7 linked regions of the Homo sapiens genome follow. The protein of the gene in region 2 interacts with the protein of the main gene of each other region in a pairwise test. Each region holds a gene or a part of one and is shown on either strand. Other genes may lie near its edges.

Region 1 (3,500 bases), on a different chromosome or scaffold from region 2:
ACATTGAAATAGACTGTGAAATCCAATTCTAAGATCCAATACTGACATTTTTTTCGGAAAGAGTGACTTACATGTGCTACATTTGATGGCCGGTTCATCTGCTGAATGTCAGCATTATTAGTAATATTCCTCAGTGTCCGTACAGCTGGACTCCAGGTAGCTATCATTTCTGATCTTTCAGAACTTTGGAGGTTTTGTCCAGCAGCCATTAAATTACCCCGGACCTCAGGGGGCAAAATGTTACCTGGGACGGGTGGGACATTGGCACACAAGTTAATCAACCCAGGCTCCTTTCCCTGAGGCAGCCTGCGTTTTGCTGCAGCTAACTGTGGGACTTCGGCCGGGGTCCAGTTTAAATTTCTCTCCTGTTTTTCCGGTGATGAATCTGAAGAATCATCAAACATTAATTCCCCTTTAGATTTTTCAGTGTTGGATTTAGGTGAAAACTGCTGGTCACCTGAAGGAGACCCTTCTTGAGAGCTGGCAGGGCTTGACTTCTCATCTGTACTACCCTCATTCTGAGAATCTTGTTCCTCATTTTCTACTTCCTCCTCCTCTTCCTCTTCCTCTTCTTCCTCTTCATAAATAATCAGACGAGGATGATAAAATGCTTCGTCCTTTTTGGTTTTCTCTGATACGCAATCCAGAACCCAGTCAGGAGTCACAATTTTAATACTTGCTCGCTTTAAAGCACATTCGTATTTCTCCTACGAGGAAAGCAGAAACACACACAAAACAAAGCTGTAAATTTTATCACATTTCCTACAATTACGCATTTTAGAAAAAACTCAGTCAAGGAATGCAGTTGAAATGTTGAGCAACTATTATTACAATTTTATACAGAAGCAACGTTTGATCTTTTAGACAGAGGACATGAGGCAAAAGTGAAAAGGAACCATACAGCAGTGATCATAGGAAGGTCTCACACCTGTAGCAGGAGTCTTAAAAGACTTGGCTGAAAATTAACTTTTTAAAATGATATTTTAAGTACAAAAGTAGAGCTAGTAATCCTATGGAAAATTATGAAATGAATAATTGCTACCTAAGTTTTTACTGATTGATAATATTTAGAAGCTTGGTTTTCCATGACAGTTAGTAAAGTAACAGCGTGGCAGAGTGCCGCCAATGCATCACGTACACTCATGGAGCATGGCTGACTTGGCTGACTTGCATAGGACAGCTCTATTCAAGATCCAGTATTTATGGAGCTCATGCTATATGCCAAGCAGCACTAAGGGATGGAGACACAAAGGATGCAACAAGTCTCTGACCTAACAAGGCTCACAATTTGGTTCTAAAGAGATATTAAATACGGAATGCAAATACAATATAAAACCACTGCTGAATGATGCAGTAACAGACTGGAAGGGAATCTCATCAACATAAGCTGGAGGGCAGGAGGAAAGCCCCGTTGAAAGGTGAGCTTTGGCTGGGGCACAAATGATGACAATTTGCACAGTTAGAATGAAAGCAGAAAATACAGCCCACTGGAAAAGATGTGTCCGGAGTAGTATGTTCGGCAAGCTAACAGAGACCTCTCCTGTGGTAAAGGGTGTAGAATGTGGAAGGCACAGGGGAGGGAATAACAAAGAAAGAGGAAATAAATAAAAAATGTTAAATAAGAGTAATATGACAATAAAGTAACCTTAAAATAAATGAGTTGTAAATTTGGCTGTGCTCCTAAAAGCTTAACACATAACAGCAATTCTCTAGCAAACACATAATCAGGGCCCTAAACTAAACTCCGTGTCCTGTTGCAGAGCCCCAAGGTGGCATTTGCAATTTCTGGGTGGAATAAGAGTCACACGCAATAGGGATGCGGGGCAGCAGCACAGAGAGGACAGCTGTTGGTCATTCGGTCCTGGCAGCGAACGCCAGGCATTGCCCATCTGGGAGATCCTTGCAAATAGTGAGCTCTGCACACAGCTCAGTGACTTAACTTGTGTTTGTGAGTTTGTTCTTTCTCAAACCTTTTTAAAATATAAGAAAAACCTAGTCATGGGAGACACCCATGAATAAGAAGCTAAGCAAAGGAAAATGAATGTAATCATAATCACACTGACTAGAAAGGACCACGATTAACATTTTTAGGGTATAGTTTAAATTTATTTTTGTTATAAATATATATGTACATATATTAAAAGGGCAAAGGGAAAAAACATATAGTCATAGTGAACAAATACTTTATAATGTTCCTTTTTCACTTAATATATTGTGAACAACCTCTTCCTATGAAAACATGTATACTTTTATGCTTTTGTTTTTAACTTTTTAATGTACATTTTCGAACACAGACCAAACTTTTTAATGTACATTTTCGAACGCAGACCAAACTTTTTAATGTACATTTTCGAACGCAGACCAAATTAGAGACTAGTGGAATAAATCCCTTGTATCTGTCACCCAGCTTTAATAACTGGCAATCTTTTACAAATCTTGCTTCTCCTGAACTTTGTTTACGGATCTCAAATTGATAAAGACTTTCTAAACCACCATAATTATCATAGCAGCACAATGAACTATGATTCACCTCATCCTCAGGCCCTATTCAGATCTCCCCAGTAGTCTCAAAGGCTTTTACAGTTTCCTCTTCGGTTGCACAGCTGTGTACCTTAGTTCATCCCCCAGTGTTAGCCACGTGGTTGTTTCCAGTGTTTCACTACTATGAAAAACTGCAGTTATATTTTATGACAAATTCCTAGGTTTTGGTGTTGAGGTTTGAAAAGGAATAGATTTAAGGCTTCATATCTCTAACTACACTTCCCTTCCCAAAAAGGCTATTCCAATTACACTTCCAACAGCTATGTAAGAGTACATCAATTTACCTATACCCTCGACAATAAAATGTCTTATTCTTTACCCTAAAAAATCATGCTGTTCTTAAATATTTAAAAGCATAAAATGTTATATAGCTCTCCCCAGATGATAAATTTCTACTAGAGATTTTCAATTTCTGGACTACCCATTCCAGAAAAACCCAAGTTATTTTAGGAAAATATGAAGTCCAGGTACACAGCAGAATATTTATGAACCAATTAATACAAAAATATCATCTGCTTGAATAACATATGACTATATGTAATATGGTTTACATATGATTTTTCCAAGTTAAAAAGATATCTGTTGAAATAGTAAAATATGAAAAAAAGTTATTTTTAATTGTTTTAACAAATACCAAAAAACAAAACAAAACTACTGCCATGAAGAGGAGTCACTGAAAATTTTGGATATGAAAAAGATAATTTCACACTTAAAAGGCTGGGATCCAGTAGGCTCTTGAGTTCCTAGTTTGTATAGAATGCTGGCATTTCACATTTCAGAAATAACTTGACTATTTCCTGTGGAAATCTAAGTAAAACACTTAGGTAAACAGCCTTACTATATTTCACTCAAGTTTTCTCTCGCTTTTCACAAGATAGGTAGTTTTTAATCACTGAAAGACAGTAACTGTTTAAACAAAGATGATTTAAGAGGAAAGCAATGTTTAGATGCCTTTGCCT
Region 2 (3,500 bases):
CTGGGATTACAGGTGTGAGCCACCGTGCCCAGCCCACTTTTATCTTATTTGTAGATTGGGGCTCACACAAAATTTAATTTCAAAAATGGTTTCCACTGTTAAAGAGCCATTATACTAGGCTGAACTTACATCCATAAGGCTATGTTGCACCCACAGGGCTGTGTTAAGAAGCCAACTATTGCCGGGCGTGGTGGCTCACACCTGTAATCCCAGCGCTTTGGGAGGCTGAGGTGGGTGGATCACCTGAGGTCAGGAGTTCGAGATCAGCCTGACCAACATGGATAAACCCCATCTCTACTAAAAATACAAAAAAAAAAATTAGCCGGGTATGGTGGTGCATGACTGTAGTCCCAGCTACTCAGGAGGCTGAGGCAGGAGACTCGCTTGAACCTAGAAGGCAGAGGTTGTGGTGAACCAAGATGGCACCACTGAACTCCAGCCTGCGCAACAGAGCCAGACTCCGTCTCAAATAAAAAAAAAAAAGAAGCCAACTATTTCTTATAGATAGTAGGTGACAACTATCAATAATCACAAAAACTTCAAATAGGAAGAAGGAGGGAATGCTAAAGATCATTTCAACAATGACAGCAAAACAACAGAAACTGCCATTTATTGAGGAATTATTGTGTGCCAGATACTGTGCTATGCTTATATGCAGTATCTCTAATTAAATCTTTACACTAACTCTAAGAACCTTAGAAAATTAAAACTTGAATAGAGGCCAGGCACAGTTGCTCACACCTGTAATCCCAGCACTCTGAGAGGCCTAGGCGGGAGGACTGCTTGAGGCCAGGAGTTTGAGACCAGCCTGGGCAACATAGCAAGAGTCAGTCTCTAGGGAAAAAAAAAAAAGGAAAGAAAAATAAATTTGGATAGAATCACATCACAGAGCTGGCAAGCTGGAGAGCCAAAATTTATACTCAAGCTTTTTAAGTCTAGACCCAAGCTCTTAACTACTATAATACACTATCTCTTATGACCTGGTTCTAGTACTAACTAGCTCTGTAACCTCTTTATACCTTAATTTCTTCACTAAATGGAAGTAACGGTACTTTATAAGTTTGTCATGAGAATTCATTGACTTGATCCAAGTGAAATGGTTAGCATAGAGACTGGTACATGGTAAATATCTGATAGATGTTAGCTGCTAATAATATAATTATTGTCACTACCCCAAGTAACTGGGATGCAAGCACCTGGAGCCAGTTGAAGCTTCATTATTTTATAAAAATGCTAAGACCATGTATCATTAAATTTGAAAAGGGTGACACACCTAAAATATAAAATTCCTTTTTTTTTTTTTTGAAACAGAATCTCCCTCTGCCACCCAGGCTGGAGTACAGTGGCACCATCTTGGCTCACTACAACAACTGCTTCTCAGGTTCAAGCGATTCTTGTGCCTCAGCCTCCCGAGTAGTTGGGATTAAACGTGTGCACCACAACGCCTGGCTAGTTTTTTTATTTTTAGTAGAGGTAGGGTTTCACCATGTTGGTCAGGCTGGTCTCGAACTCCTGGACTGAAGTGACCCACCTGCCTTGGCCTCCCAAAGTGCTGGGATTACAGGTGTGAGCCACTGCACCCGGCCCAAGATTCCCTTTTTTTAAAGAGCCTCGGCAGAATCCTAAATCTAAAGCAGCACCTCTCTTTCCTTTGTCTCACAACTTTTGTAGTACCAAAGATAATCTATACAAAGGTATTTATAGGGATTAAATAGCCAAAACTTTACTGGAAAGGTTTAAAGCATTCTGGTAAAGGAAAGCTTGTTTTTTAAAAAAAAATTCACAACAATTCAGAGACTTCCTCTGTGTGTCTGGAAGATACTTGCCCTCAAGTACGGTATGTAGCTGAAGCATACTTACTACAAAAATTGGTAATGCCTGCTGTCCTGTATTCTTGGAGCCTCTTGATTTCCCTTCGGAGTTCAAATTCCACTGTTTTCCCCAAAAGGAATGAAGGAAAAAATTACAAAAACAAAAGCAACATTAGTGAGCACTTTTGCTATTGAGCATTTTCATTAATTCTGCCTTATAAGACTAGGGAAGTTCATTTGGAGAATCCTACTCGTTGGTAACTTCTCATTAGAAATTTTACCCAAGAGCTGAGGAAAACCTACTCCAGCTATCTTCCAGCTGCTGTCTCCAGATGCAGCAGCTGGAACTGTCTTCTAGAAAACTTAGTGAAATGGTTAAATTCATTTGTCTACAAAAGTAACAATTTTTTTTTTCTTTTTTTGAGACAGAGTCTCGCTCTGTCGCCCAGGCTGCAATGGCATGATCTCGGCTCACTGCAACCTCCACCTCCCGGGTTCAAGCAATTCCCCCTGCCTCAGCGTCCTGAGTAGCTGGGATTACAGGCATCTACCACCACACCCGGCTAATTTTTGTATTTTTAGTAGAGATGGGGTTCTGCCATGATGGCCAGGTTGGTCTCGAATTCCTGACCTCAGGTGATCCACCCGCCTCGGCCTTCCAAAGTAGCTGGCATTATAGGAATGAGCCACCGCACTGGGCAAAATATAATTTTTTTAACAACCAAGTTTCCCTGCTCTAACTATCTTCTATTAAAAGTTCTACAAATCATTCTAATTTGGCTGCTTTTGAAACAGAGAATGAAGGAAGAGCCTGGACAATCCATGGGGTGTAGTGTTTTGGAATGACACATAAACCAGGGGTGTGTCCCAAACTGGGACAGGAAGTAAAGGATCAGTCACCTGGTACAAACCACACAAAGAATGCTAACCAAACAAGGTGTTTGGTGAGGACAACCAACCTGGCTCAGATAAATGTCTGCAATGCTATGTAAGAAATATTTTCACGGTGAGAATAAGGGCCTTAGTAGACTACCTTCCCAGAACTAAACTTAGAAGCCACATACACAAATGTCATGATGAAAGGTACAGAACAAGCCAGAGTCCATATTATTTTAACAATCTAGGCCTTACTGCCATACCAACATATTTTGTTTTGAAACAGGGTCTCACTCTGTCGCTCAGGCTGGAGTGCAGTGGTGTGATCTCAGCTCACCGCAACCTCGGCTACCCGGGTTCAAGCAATCCTCCCACCTCAGCCTCCAAAGTAGCTGAGACTACAGGTGTGCACTACCATGCCTGGCTAACTTTTGTATTTTTGTAGAGATGGAGTTTTACTATGTTGCCCAGATTGGTCTCGAACTCCTCGACTCAAGCAATCCTCTTGCCTTGGCCTCCCAAAGTGCTGGGATTACAGGTGTGAGCCACCACGCCCGGCCTCATAACAACTTTTAATTTTTTATAGTGAAAAATCAAATGGTAACTATGTAGAGCTCTCACAGAAATACCACAGAAAGGCAAGAGATCGATGGAAGTACTATCTCCACAAGCTATCCATCTCTGTCCTCATTTTTAAAACTACTTTTAATACTAAAATATTTATGAACAAAATAAAATGATGTCTGGGATTTGCTTCAGAATAATCCAGTTGAGGGCAGGAGGGAAGAGTGAGTGGTAAAGATGAAACCAGAC
Region 3 (2,981 bases), on a different chromosome or scaffold from region 2:
ATTGATTTCACAACCTACTATTGAGACCCACAATCTAAGAAATTCTTGATTTAGGCTCTCCCCAACCTCACTCCTCTCACCCATACCACCCAGGTCCCCTCCTTATGAAAGGGCAGGGTTTCTCCTTCATATCCCCATTTAGTGAATCTTGAAACTAGAGTCCTGACCACAAAATGCAGGTGGGGGGTAAGAACATGCTTAAAAACAACCACAATCACAACACTGCCTCACTTTCCTCTCCCTCCTGGCTTCATCAGCCTTTCCGCTTATTCTTAGGAGACTCCCAAGAAACCTCGGCACTCTCTCATCCCCAGGGCCCTTCCCTCTAGGACCTCCTTCCCCTCTGGGCTTCTGACCTGTCTCCGGGACCGCAGGGCACATTCCTCCAGGGTCTCAGCAGCCTCCAGCTTTCCCTGGCGCCTATACAGAGCTCCCAGGTTTCTCAGAGTAGTGTTCACTGTGGGGCTGTGGTGAGAAAGAGACCAGAGAAGGAAGAGAGAATGAGTTCAGAAAACAAAACATTTGTCTTCCAAGCAAGACAAGAGGAAAAAAAATAAGAAAATAGGAGAGGGAACAGAGCTAAAGCTGAGGGAAAGTCTACGGGAGGAAGGGAAAAGGTCTGGGAGGCTGGGAGCAGGGACTGGATGGAGGGCATCGGAGGCCAAGCTGGCTTTTCACTGTCAGCTCACCTGCTCACTTTGCAGGCCTTGTACCAGCCTCCATACTCAGCATAGGGTGTCCCACCCTCATGGTGCCGGCTCTGCAGGACAGAGAGAGGCCAGAAAGAAGGGCAGGGAGAGCCAAATATAAGAATACAGAGATGCTGAGATGCAAGGTGGCATGGGGCTAGGGTGCAGGCTGGGCTGGGGAGGACACCATGCATCTGGGGCTGGTGCTGGGATGGGAAGTGAGAGTTGGGCTAATGCAAGGAGTAAGACAGAGACCCCGGTAGCCTTGAGCTCCCCAGGCTGGCCCCCCTTCCCCCCACTCACTTTGCTCATTTCCTCCCGCTCCTCTGCATGCATCCAGATGGGCTTGTGGTCATCTAGGGGTGATACATGGGGTGGGGAGGTTAGAGATGGGAGCTAGACAGTGTCGGAGAGCCAGGACCCAGAGGCTGACAGGCTGGACTGAAGGGGTCTGGCTCCCCCTGGGAACCGCTGTGGCCTAACCCCCGACCTTTGGTCTGAATTTCTTTTCTTCCCCACAGCCCCTTCCCCAGGCCCTCACCACTCACCATCCACAGACCCAAACTCCTGTACATGGGCACGGGTCAGGATCTCTTTGTATAGTGTCTCAGCCTCAGCATATTTGCCCTGTTTCAGGTAACAGGAAGCCTGGAGGACAGAAAGGCAAAAATACAGGAACAAAACATGGAGGGAGGCAAGGTCTTTTTTTTTTTTTTTTTTTTAGACAAGGTCTTCACCAGGCTCAGGGAGTTCCACTTCTCAGTGTCTCTCTCACTTTCCCCAGAGATCTTTCTCACACCTCCTTCTCCAGGTGTAGGGTCAAGGGTATTCCCAGCCCACTCCCAAGAAGCTGTGGAACTTCTATAACTGGAATGAAGCAGATCCTTCATCCGCAAAGGCAGCCCCAGACATGAGCACAAAGTTGATGAGAGCAGTGTGCCAGACTGTGATGCTTCCTGACTCTAGGACCCAAGTGGCCTCTCCGCCTGCCCCCCCTCCCCCCACCTCTGTGCCCCCCTCTCCGTTTCTTCCACCTACTTTGTCCCTCCTCCCATACCAGGTTGTTCTTGGTCCGGGCTACATTAGGGTTGTCCGGCCCCAGCTGCCCCTCGTAGATGGCCAGTGCTCGCTGGTAGTAGCGTTCCACGGCCTCATACTTGCCCTGGTTTTGGCACAAGAGGGCCAGGTTGTTCAGCTGTTTTGCCACATCTGGATGATTCGTGCCCAGGACCTGAAAGGGAACAAAGGAGTGGATAAATGGCTATGATAACATGTGTGTGCACAAGCACACGTGTGTTTGCATGTAGGCACACACATGTGGAAAGCAGAGGAAAGGGAATGAAGGAAGAGAGAACAAAGCAGAGATGGGGGTGAGAAAAAAAAAGTGAAGGAGGAGGGTTAGACCAGAGGAGCCATGTAGAGAAGGGTCACAGCGACAAGAGAAGAAGGGAGAGAGGGCATGGGTACCTTTTCTCGAATCTCCAGTGCCCGCTGGCACAGAGGCTCTGCCTCCTTGTACTTGCCCCTTTTGCCATAGAGCACAGCCAAATTGTTGAGTGTGGCAGCCACCTATGAAGACAGGCCTGTCCCCATCAGACATTTGGGTTGCAAAAGACCTATGGGAATCTGAGGTTCCCCACCTCCCAGCAGGGCCCAACACTCACTGCACAACTCTAAGAGACAAAGTCTACTACCCTGGAGCCAGGGGCTGAAGGGAGGGGAAATTGCTGAACAGGATGGCTCTGAGGCTAAGGGACAGTATCGCCCTCTAGGGGATTTTAAGAAATTTCTGGAGGTGTTTTTTTTCTTTCTTTTTTTTTTTTTTTTGTTGTTGTTGTTGTCACCATGAAGATTACCTTTGAGGAGGCAAGAACGCTATAGATGTTCTGCATGTGTGGGACAGCTCTGCCAATTTTTTAATGTCCTGCCAGACATCCAAACGCTAAATGTAAACATTGATATTTGATGGGATATCAAGACAGGAGTATGATTTCTGAGATACATCATCCCTGCCTATCATATGTCATACCATAGGGAATTATTTTCACACAGATCACATTCAAAAATAGCTTTTTGGCTGGACGCAGTGGCTCACGCCTGTAATCCCAGCACTTTGGGAGGCCGAGGTGGGCGGATCACCTGAGGTCAGGAGTTCGAGACCAGCCTGACCAACATGGAGAAACCCCGTCTCTACTAAAAGTACAAAATTAGCCAGGCGTAGTGGCATGTCTGTAATCCCAGCTACTCGGGAGGCTGAGGCAGGAGAATTGCTTGAACCCGGGAGGTGGAGGT
Region 4 (3,500 bases), on a different chromosome or scaffold from region 2:
CAAAAGGAGGGAAAGAGAAAGAGAGAGAGAGAGAGAGATGGTAGACAGATGATAGGTAGGTAGATAGATGATAGATAGATAGATAGATAGATAGATAGATAGATAGATAGATAGATAGATAGATAAAAATGAATGGATTGCTGGATCTGGAAAAGATGCAGAAATAATCTCCCTATGACCTTGTGTCTTAGTGAATCTCAATAAAGACAGACAATAAAGCAGTAAATGCAAGCATTGTTTGGGAACTATGGTACTTGGACCAAAAGCTCTATGTTCTGTGAACTAACTTACCCCAAGGAAAGCATTTAGAGAACCTGGTAAATGGCTGGCCAACATCCCTCTTTGTTTCCTTCTCCAGCCCAGATCTCTGGGAGCATGTGTCCCACTGCCTCCATGACAGTTCCACTTGCTTGTCGCACAAGCAGCTCAACTCAGCTGTCCAATACTGAAGCCTGGAGCACACCCCACAGGCCCCCTGCCTCTCACTAACTTCCTGTCACCTCCAACCACCCAGGTGTTGGACAGAAAGCTGGGAATCGTCCTTGACTCTTCCCCTAACTCCTTACAATGAAGTCATGATGATTCTGCCCCAAGCAGGACATGTCGTGCCCAAGGGATGGACAGGGAAGTAACTGGTGCCCCTGGAGTTGTTCAGCATGGCATCCCTGCCCCCAGTATAACTCAAATCCACCTCCCTCTCTCTCATTCTCTACTGACAGCCCCTGACCTAAGTTAGCACCATCTAACTGGAGTCTTACTTTTCCTCCCGCTTCAGTCCAATTGGCTCTCCACACAGCAGCCAGAAGCAGCATTTAAAAGTGCAGGTCAGATCATGCCCCTTGCTCAAACCCCCTTCAGTAGATTTCCAGCGCTTTTTAAAAATGAAGTCTCAGTCCCTAACCCAAAAGTGGTCCCCCGTGAGCTGGCCTCTACCGCAGCTCCAGCTTCTCACACCGCTTTCACCCTTGCTCCCTGTTCTCCAGCTCTTCCCAACTCAGGGCCTTTGAAGGGGCTCTTCCTTGTGCCTGGAATGCTCTTCCTCACATTTCTCATCATTCCTTGGAGCTTGACTCAAGGGTCAACTCCTCAGAGAGGCTTTCACTGACTTCAAATGGCCTTTGCTAATCCTCTAATTTAGGTCCCTTGGTTATTTTATCTCAGGGGATCATTTCTTCATAACATTTACACTTTTCATAACTAACCCAATTGTGTTACTCTTTTGTGACTATTTGTCTTGCTAGCAAGCAGCATGATGGTAGGAGTTATACCTAATTTGCTCACCACAGTGATCCCAGAACCAAGATCAGTCCCCGGCACATAGTAGTTACTCAGTAAGTATTAGCCCCTAGCAGCTTCATTCGTCATAATTGCCAAAACTTAGAAGCAACCCAGATGTCCTTCAGTAGGTGAATGAATAAATAAACTGTGGTACATCCAGACAATGGAATATTCTTCGGCACCAAAACAAATGAGCTATCAAGCCACTGAAAGATACAGAGAAAATGTAAATGCATATTATTAAGTGAAAAATGCCAGTTTGAAAAGGCTACGTAATGCATGAATCCAATTACATGACTTTCTGGAAAAGGCAAAACTATGGAGACAGTAAAAACATCAGTGGATGCCAAGAATTCGGAAGTGGGAGGAATGAATAGGTGGAGCATGGAGAATTTTTAGGGCAGTGAAAATACTCTGCATGATATTATAACGGTAGATATAAGTCATATACATTTGTCCAACCCATAGAACGTCTACCAACCATCAAGAGTGAATCCTAATGTGAACTATGGACTTTGGGTGATAATGATGTGTCATTGTAGGTTCATCAATTGTAACACATGTACTACTCTGCTGGGGAATGTTGATCATGGGGGAGGTTGTGCATGTGTGGGGGCAGGGGATATATGAGGAATCTCTGTGCCTTCCTTTCAATTTTGCTGTGAACCTAAAACTGCCCTAAAAAAGGAGCCTTTAAAAATTAACTTTTTAAAATTCATTAATTAATTAAAATAAATATATACTGAAGGAATAAATAAATCTCTTTTTTCAGGTATCACTTCTTCCTTTTTTTCTTTCTTTTGATGAAAGCCAAAATGCCATCAGCTCATTTTTTTCTTATAAGTCCATAAAAGAATGATGTGTCCTGCAACTGATGGGCTCGTAGATTCAATGAAGGACAGGATATAGAGAAATTGGGCTCAACTGTATGTCCAGCTGGTTTGGCTGTTCCAGCCCTACTCAAGGCAGGACAGCTTGCAAGCATAGCGCACACGTCTCAAAGGCTCAAAACCTACCCACATTCTTGGGTGTCCTGCTGAGTCCCCAAGAGCACTGAGGAAGCAACCACTTGACAGTATTCCATATTTTCACAAATCTTGTCTGCCTCACACGCCAGCCATCAGCGCAAAATGACCATTCCTAAATTCTCTATAAGTCAAAATCTCTGTCTTCAAAAGGCCCACGTTCAGAAGTTACCTCCCATAAGACTTCCTCTGGCTCCCCATGATGATATGAACATGCCTAGTCAACGTTCATTTCATTCCACCTGGTGTTATTAAGTTAGTCTACCTATGCCTCCCCTAGTAGACTTAGAACCCCCTGAGGTCAAGAAATATTCTCCCTCATCTCCACATTGCTCTATTCCCTGCAGACAGCTTGGCATATCAAAGATATCCAATCAGTTCAACAAGCTGATTCAAATGTCCCTCCATCTAAGGCAATTTGTCCAGAGAATCTTCCTGCACTATACAATTAATTCCAAATTGAAATGCCAAAGACCAGAAACCTGGAAGTGGGGAAAAAATCCAATAATTGATTTCAGAAAAAAAAGTGGAATTCCAAATCTCTTAAAACATAATTTTGAAATCCTTTAAAACATATGAGCCTTATTAATTACTCTGCAAATACTCATCTCAGAGAATGTCCACATAATGCTTAATTCCTAATGATTACTGGTCTGAATTTGTAGCTGATTCCCTCATGCTTAAATTACAAAAGATTAAGATGGAACAATGACATTGGGGAAACAATCTCCTTCTTAATTGTGCCATTTCAGCTGCAAATACCCTTTTATGTATATAACTAATTCAAATCTTCACTATTTCCTATACATCAGAAACACTTAAATGTCATTCAAAAAGGCAGCAAAACAACACACACACACACACACACAGACACACAAAACGGAAGATTCTATGACTTCACTCTCTAGTCTAAAGGATATATGTCATTCCTGGCCAGAGAGAAAAGAGAAAATCAGCCAATACAACAGTTTCAGTGACCAACGTAAGGACTGTAAATGACCCAGAAGGAGGAGGCACCAGGGGCCACAGGATATGAGGAATATAACCAGGACTGTCATAGCAGAAGTCATGAGGAGAATATCTGGGAGCCCAATCCTTTCTTCTCCTCTCCCAGAGTAGCTGGTAGAATCCTAACCTAAAACCCCAACAGGGGACCTTGAAGGAGCAGATTCCAAATTTGGACCTGTATTATATCCA
Region 5 (3,500 bases), on a different chromosome or scaffold from region 2:
GGTTCAAGCAATTCCCTTGCCTCAGCCTCTTGAGTAGCTGGGACTACAGGCACGTGCCACCACACCTGGCTAATTTTTTATATTTTAGTAGAGACGGGGTTTCACCATATTGGCCAGGATGGTCTCAATCTCTTGACCTCATGATCCACCCGCCTCGGCCTCCCAAAGTGCTGGGATTACAGTCGTGAGCCACCGCACCCACAGCCCTGTTGAACTTTAAATTACATGCTGTACAGAAAATTATCAGTTACTTCTTTATCAACTCATGTATTTCCTGTAAATGTATATTCCAATGTGTTTTTCCCTCATTCTAAAACATGGGAGCTTGTGGATCACTGGTTTTTCACATGATTAAGTCAGTTTTTTGCTCACATAGTGACAGCAATTTTAAAGAAGATGTCAACTAAAGGGTATGAAAAGTTGATCTATGGTACTTACCGGTAATTCCTTGGCTAGCTTTATTACCATATTTTCAAGATATTCTGGTAAACTTTTAAACTGCTGGTTGGTTGGCTGGAAGAAGTGAGGGCTTCTCCGTGCTAATAGTCTCAGGGCTCTCCAACCATAATTTGAATTGTTCACAGCCCTATAAAAAGAGGTGTCAGGCTTGTAATTTATAGCTTTGTATTTCTGTATTCCCTTCTGCTCAGTTCTGCCATGTGTAATTCTGTATTTAAGGTAAATAGCTCAAAGTGCCATTCTTTGTATTTGAATCTTATTCCTAAAGAACTTTTCAGTATGTAGTCCACTGATAATAACAAACCAATAGATGCACATGTAACTAATCACAGGAACCAACAATGCCTGAAGAGGCAGGCTCATATGCAGCAAACACATTTTCAAAGTTTCCGTTCATTTTGTTTAATTTTAACAAGTCAACAAGTGTGTGCAGTACTGGCTGGATGCAGTACGTATACAACAGGAATCATCCATCTAGCTATTTGGAATCCATGAACTGTTCCCTAATGAAGTATAACAATGATCAGGGTGGTATACCATCAGGTGAGAAACAAACTGCAGAGAAATTCTAAAGATAATGCGTCAGAAATATGCAATGCTGCGGAAGAAACCAAACCACAAATTTATTCCATTTAAGAGTTTTGGATTGGAAGTCTCTTCCTCCCCTAAGAATAGCAATTTGGTTTATTTGGTCACCTCTTATAAATAAGCATATGTTACCTTTAGGATGTGCAGGTACCACTGAAGACTTAACAAAAACTACCCATAGACACTGGGGACTCTTCCCAAGTTAACACCTGCTGTGAGGCTTTGCCTAAACAGTTAAGAGCCTTCCTCTCTGACATATCTGTTTAGACAATTTGATTATTTTAGGCATTTTCAAAATTCACTGTCAATTATACACATCATTTTTCTTATTCTCCACAAAACCCTCTTTGGAGATAATAATTTGAACTATCACTTTAGGAATGAGTCCACCTAGTCTTATGTAACAGTGATAAATTAATATTCTTTCAATCGACAAACACTTTTGAGCCAGGCACTCAGTAGCTGTGGAGAGTACCTGAGGCACAGTAAGGCAGGCATTGCTAGTGATAAACACACAAGGTATAAGACAATTTCATAAGGATGAGGAAAACTTGAGAAATGAGAAAGTGGTAAGTGCCACCTTCTCATTTGGATAGTGGTAAGTGCCGTGAAATAAAAACCACGAGAATGCAAAAGAGGAGACCAGGGAGGGGAAGAGCTTCCCAGCCAGGGGGACTTTAAGCCACGGCAACCTTGGGGAAAAAGTGGTTCAAGCAAGTGAGACAGTAAAGTGTGAAGGTCCTGACAGGAAAGGGAAAGACAGGACCAAGAGGCCTGCTGTGGTTAAAGCAGAGGGGAGGCATGGCCACACAGGAGAGTATGAGCCAGACCAAGGAGGTCTTTTAGGCCCTGGGAAGGAGTTTGGAATAGGCACTCACTGGGAGATTTTAAGCAGATTAGACTTGGACAATTATTTTAAAGATCACTGGCTGATGCATGGAGCACTGACCACAACTAGAGAGATTAGTTAAGAGGTCACAGTAATTAACAACTCTGGTCACAGGGTCACACTAGTCACAAATACTGAGTGCTAACCACATGCCCTGTAGGGTTCAAAGTGCACTGTCTTATTTAATCCTCAGAATAACCCTGTGAAATGGGTACTGTTACTATTTAACAGATGAGGAAAGGGAACTGGCGGTTTAATAATTAAATTAGCCTTAGTTGCCTAGTAAGTAAGTGGTAGAGGGAATCGAACCTATGCATTCTGACCAGAGGCCTCTTGCCTTTAAACCACTACTCTTCAATTCCTATTTAAAGCCATGAGACTGCGGTGTCACCCAGAAGGTTCTAGATAAAGAGGCTAAGACCAATTCCTGATGTTACTCCAAAATTTGAGTTAGGCAGAGGATGAGGAGGCTGAAATGGAATGTGAGGTGGAGTGGGCAACGAGGGCAAAGGGCAAACAGAAGAACCATGGATTTGGATTCTCATGGACGCCAAGAGAAGAAAACATTAAGGGGAACAGGATAGGTTAACAGCTGCTGTGAGATACTGTGCTTTGAAGGGTAGAGAGAACAGAACTAATAGTTGGAGAGAAATGGGGATCAGGGGGAGTTTTTTTTTTCTTATATTTTGAAACAAGGGTGATTCCAAGTCATGCTTAGTTAACAGGAATAATCCTTGAAATCAGGATGTGTACTAACAAGAACTTGGAACATAAACTCACCTAAGAGAAAAAGCACTATTCTATCTACTGCCTCTCTTAAGAGGCTTTCTAGTATACACACAATTCCTAAGGAAGAAACAAATTGAAGAAAATTAAAAGGAGCTAATGAGGAGCATACTTACTTATATTCATTTTCCACCATATTTTCAGGGTCTGCCTGTTCAATGGCTTCTTCAAAGAATTCCTCCAAAGTGGGCATGTGTTCCCTGAGCGGTACAAAAATAACCAGTGAGGATGGCATATATTCTTAATAATAAATACTCATGAAGTGGTGGCAGGACAAGATTGTGGGCATGTGTTCCCTGAGCAGTACAAAAATAACCAGTGAGGATGGCATATACTCTTAATAATAAATACTCATAAAGTGGTGGCAGGACAAGATTGTGGGCATGTGTTCCCTGAGCGGTACAAAATAACCAGTGAGGATGGCATATACTCTTAATAATAAATACTCATAAAGTGGTGGCAGGACAAGATTGTGGGCATGTGTTCCCTGAGCGGTACAAAATAACCAGTGAGGATGGCATATACTCTTAATAATAAATACTCATAAAGTGGTGGCAGGACAAGATTGTGGGCATGTGTTCCCTGAGCGGTACAAAATAACCAGTGAGGATGGCATATACTCTTAATAATAAATACTCATAAAGTGGTGGCAGGACAAGATTGTGGGCATGTGTTCCCTGAGCGGTACAAAATAACCAGTGAGGATGGCATATACTCTTAATAATAAATACTCATAAAGTGGTGGCAGGACAAGATTCTAATGGCCCCATACTTTTAG
Region 6 (3,084 bases), on a different chromosome or scaffold from region 2:
AATAAGTTAAAATTCCCTGGTACATAAAAAGAAAATATAAAAGTACTATTATTCTAGACATTTTTAAGAAATCATTTTTTACGTCTGTCTCTTCAGAGCATCCCTGGTTTTATAAGATATAAACTATGAGAAAATTTGGAAAGGACACAACATATAATCCTTAGTGTTTACATAAAAATTCCTGTTAATACTTTTGTGAAAACTATCTTCCCTTCCCCACAAAGGAATAAAAGAGCATTATTAAAATGTTCTTGTCTCAAAAAAAAAGGTTCCTCAAACTTTTCCTTTATCAAATGTAAATCACAGCTGCTCTGATGAAATGTTTTTTAATTAAGTCTCTATATAAAGAATGTTCTTAAATGTCAAATCTGCACCAAAATTTAATTACCTTAAAACCATCCATATTTTCTAAGTGCACACTTGTTAAGAACGTTTATTCCCATTATCTGCTTCACCATGTAACTAGCAAGGGAATCTTGGGAGTATGTAACACAAATTACTTGCCTTAGAAAAGACACTGTTTATTCCACATGTGTAAAATTCAGTGAATGACTTTCAGAAAAATCAAAAGAAAGTAAATGTAACATCCATACAGTTGTTTAAGCTTTATTTTTAAATGCATGCATGTTTCAAGGAAACAAAAATTTCAAGATACAGAATACAACATATCAGATTAAATAATTCAGAATTATTTTAATGTATACACAAATAACAATATAAAGCACATACATAAGATACATTATATAATTTGAGGTTTCAAAAAGCAGTAATTTGGTTTTAAAATTCTGACACCAATATCTAATGTAACATTCAAGTAAAACATATTTCAAAAGTTAAGACTCCTGAGACTAACACATAACTCTATGACAGCCTGCCTTTACCACGATCTTCAAAATAGTGCTGTTCAATTCTCCTACAGAAAGCAAGGAGGTTGCTATAGTTTTTCACCTTCTCAGAAAGTTCATCATTTGTCAATTGTGTGGTAAGAATGGTGTATAGATGGCCAAATACCAGTGCGTCAAGTTCAGTAGGCCTAAAAGTAGAAATGAGAGTAATGTGAGTAAGTAGCATTTAACTTTTACAATAGAAAACACAGTTGGCCCTCTTCACCCACAGGTCCCATACTCGTAGGTTCAACTAACCTCAGATCCAAAATATTTTAAAAGATTAGAAATAACAATATAGGCCAAGCATGGTGGCTCATGCCTGTAATCCCAGCACTTTGGGAGGCTGAGGTGGGCGGACTGTTTGAACTCAGGAATTCACAACCAGCCTGAACAATGTGGCAAAACCTCATCTCTACAAAAAATACAAAAATTAGCCAGGCATGGTGGTGCTTGGCTATAGTCCTAGCTACACGGGAGGCTGAGGTGGTAGAATGGCTTAAGCCCGGGAGGTGGAGGTTGCAGTGAGCTGAGATCACACTACTGCATATCATTTAGATTGTGTGTATTGGGTACTATAAGTAATCCAAAGATGATTTAAAATATACGGATGTACATAGATTACATGCAAACACTGCACCATTTTTTCTTTCTTTCTCAATACATTAAGTTTACGTAAGCAATTATGCCATTTTATATAAGAGACTTGAACTCTGCAGATTTTAGTATCTGTGGGGGTCCCGGAACAAATGTCCTGTGGATACTTGAAAGACCCCCGTGGATATGTTTTTTAAAATCATTTTATTCATCAACTTAAAAGAAAAAAGCCACGTAAGAAACAAATCCTACCACAACTTGATATAACTTTTCTTGGAGTTTCTGCTATATGGAAAAAAAATATGATTTGCTAGTTGTGTGACTTGCTTTCTTTAGTAACAACATTTAGGTGTGTTAAAATAATATAGATGTAATGATCATATTCATTTAATTCATTACTTTTCTCACTAAATATAGCAGATCTCCAATGTGCCAGAAACCATACCAAATGCTAGACATAAAAACAAGAAAAATACTCTAAGACATGTACATGAAACATAAATTATAAAGTTGTTTTAATAAATACAATTTATTAAGTGTTTTAATAGATGCATAAACAAAATGCTGTCAAAGCACAAAGGATTTCGCTGTGGTGATAGGACCAAAAAAATGATACCCAATCACAAATCAACAACAAGACACAACTTTAATTTTACCACATTTAAAGTAACTTAGATTTCTGAAGGAGACAAAATCATAAGGATGGCTTCAACATAAAAATTTCTAGGAATTTTTTTCTCTGTAATTATATATTACTAACAACAAAATGAAATCTACCCCACTACTAATGATCTATAAATGGGGCATCACCAATTTACATTATATTAAAATAATTACTAATGCACTATTACTAAAACAAGAAAATGTCATCATAATTACGAGCTAATTATTACTGTGTCCCACAGTGATAAAGTTTTTGAGAAAATATGTGCTAGCCTACATAAATGTGAAAATATGTTGCAGTAATCTGGTTTGGCAGAATAAATTTGGGGGTTGGTAAAAATCCAAATTTGAACTCCAATACTATCACTTACTAGCTATGTGGCCTTGAACCCTATTGATAAGTAGTCTCCTAGAGATGCATGGCTTTAAATACCATCTTGATGCCACTGACTCCTAAATATTTATCTCTGGTCCTAATGTCTCCCCTGAGCTCTGGATTCATACATTCAAATGCCTACATAACATCTCCACTTCAATGTGGAGTATCTGTGGAGCAGGATGTGGAGCATCTTGACTAAGATGTGTGGGATACTTTATTTTCTCAATAGCAGTAATTTACAGTATCCCAAACCTGCTTGTCCCCCAAACTTCCCAAAATAAAAGGCACCACTATCCAACCAGCTGTTCAGGCCAAAAATTTAGGGGCTACTCTTGAGTTCTTTCTTTCACCCTCCTATATCCATTAGCAAGTCTGGTGAGACACTACCTCCAAAATATGCCCTGAATGCCACCACTTATTCTTCATTATGATTTCACAGTGTAACCTACCATCATCTGTCACCTAGACCACTGAGATAGCCTCCTAAAGTGTCTTACTGCTTCTACTCATTCTCCATACCATGGTCAGAATGACTAATGTCAGCAGATCATACCAACTCCA
Region 7 (3,500 bases), on a different chromosome or scaffold from region 2:
TTTAAAGCTTTGTAACTATGTAAATAGTAATTTAATTTTTATAATATGCTTATAGTAGATATACTTTTCTTTTAGAAAGTTGTCTTTTTGCCATCTTTCATTCATTAAAATCCACAGATGTTCTTTAATTTATTACAAACTTTGTTTTTCTTACAAGTTTTCAATAAAGCTGTAAGGTGTGTCTTAGGAATTGATCTTAAGTTGATTTGCTTTGCTTTCTAGACTCAGAAGTCCCTAGAGAAAGTTCACATGAAGATTCTCTTCTAGAATGGTTGAACACCTTTCGGCGCACAGGAAATGCAACTCGAAGTGGACAAAATGGGAACCAAACTTGGAGAGCTGTGAGTCGAACAAACCCGAACAATGGAGAGTTTCGGTTTAGTTTGGAAATCCACGTAAATCATGAAAATAGAGGATTTGAAATTCATGGAGAAGATTATACAGACATTCCACTTTCAGATAGTAACAGAGATCATACTGCAAATAGGCAACAAAGGTCAACTAGTCCTGTGGCTAGGCGAACAAGAAGCCAAACCTCAGTGAATTTCAATGGTAGTAGTTCCAACATTCCAAGGACTAGGCTTGCTTCAAGGGGGCAAAATCCAGCTGAAGGATCTTTCTCAACATTGGGAAGGTTAAGAAATGGAATTGGGGGAGCAGCTGGCATTCCTCGAGCTAACGCTTCACGCACTAATTTCAGTAGTCACACAAACCAATCAGGTGGTAGTGAACTCAGGCAAAGGGAGGGGCAACGGTTTGGAGCAGCACATGTTTGGGAAAATGGGGCTAGAAGTAATGTTACAGTGAGGAATACAAACCAAAGATTAGAGCCAATAAGATTACGATCTACTTCCAATAGTCGAAGCCGTTCACCAATTCAGAGACAGAGTGGCACTGTTTATCATAATTCCCAAAGGGAAAGTAGACCAGTACAGCAAACCACTAGAAGATCTGTTAGGAGGAGAGGTAGAACTCGAGTCTTTTTAGAGCAAGATAGAGAACGAGAACGCAGAGGTACTGCATATACCCCATTCTCTAATTCAAGGCTTGTGTCAAGAATAACAGTAGAAGAAGGAGAAGAATCCAGCAGATCCTCAACTGCTGTACGACGACATCCAACAATCACACTGGACCTTCAAGTGAGAAGGATCCGTCCTGGAGAAAATAGAGATCGGGATAGTATTGCAAATAGAACTCGATCCAGAGTAGGGCTAGCAGAAAATACAGTCACTATTGAAAGCAATAGTGGGGGCTTTCGCCGAACCATTTCTCGTTTAGAGCGGTCAGGTATTCGAACCTATGTTAGTACCATAACAGTTCCTCTTCGTAGGATTTCTGAGAATGAGCTTGTTGAGCCATCATCAGTGGCTCTTCGGTCAATTTTAAGGCAGATCATGACTGGGTTTGGAGAACTGAGTTCTCTAATGGAGGCCGATTCTGAGTCAGAACTTCAAAGAAATGGCCAGCATTTACCAGACATGCACTCAGAACTGAGTAACTTAGGTACAGATAACAACAGGAGCCAGCACAGGGAAGGTTCCTCTCAAGACAGGCAGGCCCAAGGAGACAGCACTGAAATGCATGGTGAAAACGAGACCACCCAGCCTCATACTCGAAACAGTGACAGTAGGGGTGGCAGGCAGTTGCGAAATCCAAACAATTTAGTTGAAACTGGAACACTACCCATTCTTCGCCTTGCTCACTTTTTTTTACTAAATGAAAGTGATGATGATGATCGAATACGTGGTTTAACCAAAGAGCAGATTGACAATCTTTCCACCAGGCACTATGAGCATAACAGTATTGATAGTGAACTAGGTAAAATCTGTAGTGTTTGTATTAGTGACTATGTAACTGGAAACAAGCTCAGGCAATTACCTTGCATGCATGAATTTCACATTCATTGTATTGACCGATGGCTCTCAGAGAATTGCACTTGTCCGATCTGTCGGCAGCCTGTTTTAGGGTCTAACATAGCAAACAATGGGTAAGGTGATGGGATCTACTCAAATACTGTTTTTTAGTAGAACTGAATGTTCAAGCATTGTTTTGCTGAGTTATTTGTGATTAGCTAACCAGGATGAAAAATAACAGATTATATATAGTTTGAACTATTTTTCGTGTGCTTTTTTAAACTTGTTAAAAAGAAATTTATATAAAATTTAAAATACAAATGTTAAATTATCCAGAAATACAGAATAGTTAATATTGCTAGAACCAAATAACCTCTAAAATGTTTTTATTTTGGTAATTTTGTCATGCTAAGCACTTTTGTATCTGCACAATTCAGTAGGTTAAGAATCAATCTTCTTTTTCTTAATAGTACAGCAGACTTTAGCTTCAAGTTTCATAGGCTTAGTACTTATATCTAGACATTTGTGTCTAAATAAGCTTTTCATTAACTTTTTATTTTAAGGACAGTATCTTTTCATGAAAGAGTATTTGGCTGAATGTTTGCTATATATATGTTACTTGAAATGTTAAATTTAATATGCAGCATACCATAGGTGTATATATAGGTATATAATTTTAAGGTTAAAATATTCAGTCTACAAGTTTGGTTCTTATTTAAGCTTTTGGGCTAATACTGCATATGGCACAATGTTTAATATTGGCAAGTTCATCTCAGAGAAAGGGGATTCAGATATAATTTTAAAGTAGAGATAATTTACTGAAGCGTCTCTGACAATCTAACTTATTAGACAGCAAGCAATATATAATACTGAAAAAGTATTCAGAAATGGAAAATTTACATCATATAGGTTATTTAACTTGTGTTCAGCCTTTTTGTAACTTTTTTGAAAGTGCAAACAATTCTTTGGATTATTAAATAAGGTATACAGTATGCATGGTTTCTCAAATTTAGTTTTAAAATCTAAAAGTCTATAAAGAATCAGATGCATAGGCAATATGTTAAGTTCACTTGGAGGCTAAAAATCTCCAGTGAAAACAAAACGAAAACCTTTAAGAGAATGTAGAGTTTATATAAACACAAAGTATGCATTGAAGATCTGTTTCTACCAATAAACATTAAAACAAAGACTGTATGTGAACTATGTTTTTCTGTTGTTCCACTGTGGTTTATTCACCCTCCACTAATATTTCATACTAGATGCCAGGCAGTGTTATGGGATAGAGTATTTCCCAGACGACAGACAAAAGTCCCTGGCTTCATGGAAAAGACATATTTGCTCTTAGAAACTGAATATCAATTGATAAAGTGAATTATTATTCTTACTTTCATATTTGCTTATTAATATATGACAGGATTTTCTTGTGGTGATACTGTTTGGGCAAAATCACAAGAACAGTACTTAGGCCAGATTCTGTGAGATTTAGAAATATCTCCACATTTAATTTTCCTTTCTGACTGGTGACTATGTTCAATTCATTAGGTTAGATGCATGCCCAGGAATGTTAAGGAGTGCATTTACATGGAGTAAAAGGTTTTCATAAAAGTTGTGACTTTGTTTGGAGTAAATTATTTATGTAGGTCAGTT

What was found.
Region 1: the proteins of TADA2A (region 2) and PAXIP1 interact in a two-hybrid assay, tested with the Homo sapiens proteins (one large-scale study listed by BioGRID).
Region 3: the proteins of TADA2A (region 2) and KLC4 interact in binary tests that used the Homo sapiens proteins (3 or more experiments, as listed by UniProt).
Region 4: the proteins of TADA2A (region 2) and ARNT2 interact in a two-hybrid assay, tested with the Homo sapiens proteins (one large-scale study listed by BioGRID and IntAct).
Region 5: the proteins of TADA2A (region 2) and THOC1 interact in binary tests that used the Homo sapiens proteins (3 or more experiments, as listed by UniProt).
Region 6: the proteins of TADA2A (region 2) and MTX2 interact in binary tests that used the Homo sapiens proteins (3 or more experiments, as listed by UniProt).
Region 7: the proteins of TADA2A (region 2) and RNF6 interact in a two-hybrid assay, tested with the Homo sapiens proteins (one large-scale study listed by BioGRID and IntAct).

The regions. Positions count from the first base shown.
Region 1 is NC_000007.14:154,975,625-154,979,124, forward strand, and holds part of PAXIP1 (PAX-interacting protein 1), read right to left. Parts: intron 708-3,500; coding exon 72-707; intron 1-71.
Region 2 is NC_000017.11:37,465,886-37,469,385, reverse strand, and holds part of TADA2A (transcriptional adapter 2-alpha), read right to left. Parts: intron 1,933-3,500; coding exon 1,861-1,932; intron 1-1,860. UniProt on the Homo sapiens protein: Component of the ATAC complex, a complex with histone acetyltransferase activity on histones H3 and H4. Required for the function of some acidic activation domains, which activate transcription from a distant site. Binds double-stranded DNA.
Region 3 is NC_000006.12:43,069,631-43,072,611, reverse strand, and holds part of KLC4 (kinesin light chain 4), read right to left. Parts: intron 2,259-2,981; coding exon 2,157-2,258; intron 1,921-2,156; coding exon 1,747-1,920; intron 1,338-1,746; coding exon 1,238-1,337; intron 1,046-1,237; coding exon 993-1,045; intron 761-992; coding exon 690-760; intron 466-689; coding exon 357-465; intron 1-356.
Region 4 is NC_000015.10:80,407,382-80,410,881, reverse strand, and holds part of ARNT2 (aryl hydrocarbon receptor nuclear translocator 2), read right to left. Parts: intron 1-3,500. UniProt on the Homo sapiens protein: Transcription factor that plays a role in the development of the hypothalamo-pituitary axis, postnatal brain growth, and visual and renal function. Specifically recognizes the xenobiotic response element (XRE).
Region 5 is NC_000018.10:216,048-219,547, forward strand, and holds part of THOC1 (THO complex subunit 1), read right to left. Parts: intron 2,923-3,500; coding exon 2,839-2,922; intron 587-2,838; coding exon 439-586; intron 1-438. UniProt on the Homo sapiens protein: Component of the THO subcomplex of the TREX complex which is thought to couple mRNA transcription, processing and nuclear export, and which specifically associates with spliced mRNA and not with unspliced pre-mRNA.
Region 6 is NC_000002.12:176,335,442-176,338,525, reverse strand, and holds the end of MTX2 (metaxin-2), read right to left. Parts: intron 1,034-3,084; coding exon 862-1,033; 3' UTR 501-861; downstream 1-500. UniProt on the Homo sapiens protein: Involved in transport of proteins into the mitochondrion.
Region 7 is NC_000013.11:26,212,315-26,215,814, reverse strand, and holds the end of RNF6 (E3 ubiquitin-protein ligase RNF6), read left to right. Parts: intron 1-222; coding exon 223-1,991; 3' UTR 1,992-3,040; downstream 3,041-3,500. UniProt on the Homo sapiens protein: E3 ubiquitin-protein ligase mediating 'Lys-48'-linked polyubiquitination of LIMK1 and its subsequent targeting to the proteasome for degradation. Negatively regulates axonal outgrowth through regulation of the LIMK1 turnover.